Linked DNA regions of Homo sapiens: region 2 is linked to region 1. The links come from fine-mapping of genetic effects on gene expression. A gene starts in region 1. The other region holds a variant in brackets. All regions are shown on one strand. Distances are from middle to middle.

What was found.
Region 2: its variant is fine-mapped to the expression of RAB3D in whole blood (TOPMed, PIP above 0.99).

What each region holds. Positions count from the first base shown.
Region 1 is chr19:11,338,386-11,341,288 of GRCh38, reverse strand. RAB3D (RAB3D, member RAS oncogene family) reads left to right here and starts at 1,632. Exons shown (of 5, transcript NM_004283.4): 1 at 1,632-1,820. RefSeq lists a silencer at 1,590-1,849.
Region 2 is chr19:11,292,548-11,295,450 of GRCh38, reverse strand. No RefSeq gene overlaps it. Among named protein-coding and RNA genes, the nearest start is that of TSPAN16, 2.2 kb to the left of the region's middle. The variant T/C (reference allele first, on the strand shown) is at 1,623.

The DNA of each region.
Region 1 (2,903 bases):
CTACTGAAGCCTCTCTCTCTCCCAGGCTCAAGCAATCCCCCTGCCTCAGCCTCCGGAGTAGCTAAGACTACATGTATGTGCCCCCATGGTCAGCTAATTTTTTTTTCTTTTTTCTTTTTTTCTTTTTCTTTTTTTTTTTTTTTTTTTTTTTGTGGCCAGCTAATTTTCAAAAAAATTTTTTGTAGAGTTGGGATCTCTATGTTGCCTAGGCTGGCCTTGAACTCCTGAGCTCAAGGAATCCTCCTGCCTCAGCCTCCCAAAGGGCTGGGATTACAGGCATCAGACACTGTGCCCAGCCTCATTTATTTTTTAATTTTTTTTTTTTTTTTTTTGAGACAGAGTCTCACTCCATCGTCTAGGCTGGAGTGCAGTGGCGCGATCTCGGCTCACTGCAACCTCCACCTCCTGGGTTCAAGCGATTCTCCTGCCTCAGCCTCCCAAGTAGTTGGGATTACAGGTGTGCACCACCATGCTCGGCTAATTTTTGTATATTTATTTATTTATTTGAGACAGAGTTTCGCTCTTTTTGCCCAGGCTGGAGTGCAGTGGCGTGATCTCGGCTCACTGCAACCTCCGCCTTCCGGGTTCAAGCAATTCTCCTGCCTCAGCTTCCAGAGTAACTGGGATTACAGGCATGCGTCACCACGCCTGGCTAATTTTGTATTTTTTAGTAGAGACAGGGTTTCTTCACGTTGGCCAGGCTAGTCTCGAACTCCCGACCTCAGGTGATCTGCCCACCTCGGCCTCCCAAAGTGCTGAGATTACAGGTGTGAGCCACCGTGCCCAGCCCCTAATATTTGTATTTTTTTTTTTTTTTTTTTAGTAGAGATGAGGTTTCACCATGTTGGCCAGGCTGGTCTTAAATTCCTGACCTCAAGTGATCCGCCTGCCTTGGCCTCCCAAAGTACTGGGATTACAGGCATAAGCCACCGCGCCCAGCTCTCGTTTATTTTTATTTATTTGAAACAGGGTCTTGCTCTGTTGCCCAGGCTGGAGTGCTGTGGTGCAATCAAGGCTCACTGCAGCCTCGATGTCTCCAGCAATCCTCCTGCCTCAGCCTCCCAAGTAGCTGGGGTTACAGACGCACGCCACCACACCTGGCTAATTTTTGTTATTTTTAGTAGAGATGAGGTCTCCTTACGATGCCCAAGCTGGTCTCAAACTCCTGGCCTCAAGTGATTCTCCTGCCTCGGCCTCCCAAACTGCTGTAATTACAGGCCACCGCGCCTGGCCTAGCCTACTTTAAGGCCGGCACTGCACTTGACAAACACTAACTCAGATCAGAATCCTCCCACAACTCTGTGAGGTTGGGTACTCTCGCTATGAGCTACTTGACGGATGGGGAAACTGAGGCTCAAAGAGGTTAAGTAACGCGTCCAAAGCCACAAGACTAGAAAGTGGTGGAGCTGGGACTCGAACCAGGCCCAAGACTCTATGCTTTTAACAGCCGTGCGTATAGTAGAAGCTCTTTACAAGCAGCTGGGAAAATGAGATGTTGCTTGGCTAGGACGGGCTCTAGACGCTTGGTGCAGCTTCCAGCCCCTCCCACCCGCTCTCTGAAAGCCCCGCCCAAGACTCGGCCCCTCTTCGTCCTCCCCCATCCCCCGCTCCGGGAACGGCCCTTCCTCCGCCTTCTGGGCGGAGCCCGCGCGGGATCCGGGTGGCTGCAGGCTGCTGGCTTCTGCGGCTGCGGGGTCGGGGTCGCGGCCAGGGCCAAGCCGCAGCGAGTTCACAGGCGGAACCCCTGCAGGCGGCGCCCCCTACGCGAGGTCACCCCTGGGAAGGAGCGCAGCCCACCCGGCCCCTCCGCATCCGAGCAGGTCTGTGGGGTACGGGGGTTTGGGAGGAAGGTAGGGGGTCTGGGGAACAAAGGCGGGGCTGCGGGGAACGCCTCTGCCCTCGCCCCCACCCAGCTGGGCACTTGGGAAGCGCTGATGGGGCGCGGGCGGGGCAGAGAGCCCAGCTGGGGACAGGCGTTGGGACCATATGGTGATGGGGGAAACTCCTGAGTCCACCTGCATTGGCTGGGGCGCCCCAAATCTAGTGAAGGGGAACAGAGGCGAGCCCTCCGGGGCCAGGCTTGAGGGAGGGTCGGCAGATGGTTAGAAAGAGGCGGGACCGACTGACACAGGTGAGCTAAGGCTGGGGGAGGTGGGGGCCCCAGCCTTGCGGCCCTGCCCTGCGTGGGGAAAGGTTTCCTGCCTCTTCTCTTCCCCTCCTTAAACTCGTTCTCCTGGAACACGGGGTGGGGCCGGTTGGGTCCTGGTTTAAAATGGAAAAAAGCCCCAAAGGCAGTTGAGAAATAGCTGTGCCAGGGCTGTCTCTGCCTCTGCCCCGCCTGCATCCAGGCCTTCTGCAGCCTCTCCGTGCGGTTCCCGCAGCGGCCATAGACAGCTGGGGAAACTGAGGCCTGGGAGAGGTTATGAGGGTTGAGGGAGCACCTTGGACTCGGATGAAGCAGCATGTTGGAGTGTGGGCAGATTCAAGGAGCCTAGCCGTGGGACAGATTGCCTGGAAAGACCAAGGGTGGGCGGCAGTGGTCGTGGTGGTGGGGTTGTGTTAATTAAGTGGCTGGGATCGTTTCCTTGGGTATAAGGACTCTCACTCCTGCCTCCGTGGACTGGGGCTGGAGTGAGTCAGCCTTGGGCAGAAGGAGACAGGCCTGGCCCCTTTGACAAATAGAAAATAGCAGTACCCATTTAGGGGGTAGAACTGGACTCTAAACCTGGGCCCTGTACATAGAAAACCCCTTCCCCTTGGAACTCAGAGAAGGGGTTGTATTTGGCATGAGTTGGTGGGCGGCAGGCGCCCCAGTGGCTGACACCTGCCAAAGTCAACACCCAAGCCTTAATCAGGGGCTCTATCCAGCTTATCCAGCTGGCAGGTCCTCCCCCCACCCCACC
Region 2 (2,903 bases), 46 kb after region 1:
CTACAAGCCACCGGGCCTCCCAAGCCCAAGCCCATACTTGGCCCATCCTTCATACAGGGCTCAGAGAGGCCAAGGGAACTGCCTGAGGCCACACAGGAAGCAAGACCAGGCTTTGAAGCCCCAAGAGTAACATGAGGGCAGGAACCTGTAAGGCAGAGAGTCCTGGAACTGTGAGCCATTGGTCACTGGGTTTTTTTCTTTTGAGACAGGATCTTGCTCCATTGCCCAGGCTGGAGTGCAGTGGTGTGATCATGGCTTACTGCAGCCACGACCTCCCTGGCTCAAGTGATCCTCCCACCTTAGCCTCCCAAGTAGCAGGTCATTGGGCTTTTCTCCATGGTGATAGATGTAGTTAGCATTTCAGGACCAAAAACCTTCTGTATGTCAGCACTGAAGACCTCCAGGCCTAGATCCTGCAGTCTGTAGCCCACTTTGCCCCCATACCTCCCCACCCTAACCATAGCAGCTTCACATTGCCCCACCCCGATCCCCTCTCTGTCCAGCCCTGGGCTGGGGTGTGTCTGGGTCCAGGTCCTGCATGGATTGGGGGAAGGCGGATGGTTCAAATGGGAGAAAATACCTTACACTTTAATTAATTTAATGAATGTCTGTCAAATCGCCTGCTTCTTGGAACATGTAGAACTAAGCAAGATGTTCACAGAGGAGTGCTGTCTCCTCCTGGACCACGGGTGCTGTTCACAGCCAGGAGTGTGTCCTTCCACACCTTTATTTAAGAGGTCATTTGAAGCCAGGCGCGGTGGCTCACGCCAGTAATCCCAGCACTTTGGGAGGCCGAGGTGGGTAGATCACGAGGTCAGGAGATCGAGACCATCCTGGCTAATGCAGTGAAACCCTGTCTCTACTAAAAATACAAAAAATTAGCCGGTTGTGGTGGCGGGTGCCTGCAGTCCCAGCTACTCGGGAGGCTGAGGCAGGAGAATCTCTTGAACCCGGGAGGCGGAGGTTGCAGTGAGCCGAGACCACATCACTGCACTCCAGCCCGGGAGACAGAGGGAGACTCCTCCGTTTCAGGAAAAAAAAAAAAAAAAAAAAAAGGTCATTTGAAGTAAGGAACCTCAGAACCAGGGGCTGAGGGCCTGGAAATGGGGGCACAAAAGAGGGTGATAAATGGGCATGCAAGAGAGCATTGGAAAATGTAGGGGGCAAAGGAGGTCTGGGAAATGTGGACTCAAGGGAAAGCAGGAAAATGGGGGTGCAAAGGAGGGTGCAGAGAAGGGGGACGCAAAGATGCGAGATGGAAACTTGGCTGCAAATGAGCAGTGGGAAAACGGGCTTAAAGGACGGTGGGAAAATGAGGCTCAGATACAAGAGAGCTGGGTGAGTAGCAGACGGCGCTGTAGACGTGGGAGCAGCTCCTGGAAGGAACTGGCCGGAAAGGAATCTGGGCCGGCTGCACGCAGCCCCGCCCCTCGACCGCCCCAGCCCCTCTACCCTCCCAGCTTCTCTGCAAAGCCGCATCTACAGCCTCGCGCGTCTCCTGGCGGCGGCCCGTGGAAGCGCGGCCCTACGTGCCGGGGCTGGGCCAGGACTCTCCCTGCCAAACACGTCCAAATGTGCCCGGGTGCCCCAGGGACCCCGCCCAGCCGGTCAGCGTCAGGAAA[T/C]GAAGCAAGAATAACTTCCCGTGCCCCAGATTCCTACATCACACACCCACGGAACTTTGCAGGCATCCGACGAATTGCAAATGCAAGATACTTGCTTTTTTTTTTTTTTTTTTTTTTTGTAGAGACGCGGTCTCGCTATGTTGCCTGGGCTGACCTCTAAGTCCTAGGTTCAAGCCATCCTCCTGCCTCGGCCTCCTAAAATGCTGGGATTACAGGGATGAGCCACCGCGCCCGGCCAGGACGTTTAATATCATTGTCAAAATCATAGAAGGGCCACTCCAATACACCCTTATGGTGTGTTGAGACATTTATTTCTCCACATGCTTGGTCTCCTTTTTTATTTTTAGGGGATTAAAATTGTTTAATTTTTAATTATGTGGGCACATAGTAGGTGTACATATTTATGGGGATGGGAGATATTTTTTAAAAAGCACAATTAACCAGCCGGGCGCGGTGGCTCACGCCTGTAATGCCAGCACTTTGGGAGACCGAGACGGGCGGATCACAAGGTCAGGAGATCGAGACCATCCTGGCTAACACGGTGAAACCCCGTCTCCACTAAAAAAAATACAAAAAAAAATAGCTGGGCGTGGTGGCGGGCGCCTGTAGTCCCAGCTACTCGGGAGGCTGAGGCAGAAGAATGGTGTGAACCCGGGAGGTGGAGCTTGCAGTGAGCCGAGATCGCGCCACTGCCCTCCAGCCTGGGCGACAGAGCGAGATTCCGTCTCAAAAAAAAAAAAAAAAAAAAAAAATCACAACCAAAAAATGAAATGTGTTGAATACAATCACACACAGAATATTTATGTCAACGACCCATATTAGTCAACAAACTCTCCTCTTTTTTTTTTTTTTTTTTAATTTTCAGACGGAGTCTTTCTCTGTTGCCCAGGCTGGAGTGCAGTGGTGCGATTTCGGCTCACTGCAACCTCTGCCTCCCAGGCTCAAGCAATTCTCCTGCCTCAGGATCCTGAGTAGCTGGGATTATAGGCGCAACGCCACCACGCCCGGCTAATTTTTGTATTTTTAGTAGAGATGGGGTTTCACCACGTTGGCCAGGCTGGTCTCAAACTCCTGATCTCAAGTGATCCACCCCCCTCGGCCTCCCAAAGTGCTGGAATTACAGGCGTGAGCCACCGTGCCTGGCCTGAACTCCTCTTCTTAAATTCATGTGTTTGTTGTCAAGGGCAACAATTGGGTGTTTGGGAGCACTGAACAACAAATAGTGAATGAATGAGACCTGAGCTTGCGCCCACCCTTCAAGGTCAGAGAGGAGCGCGGCAG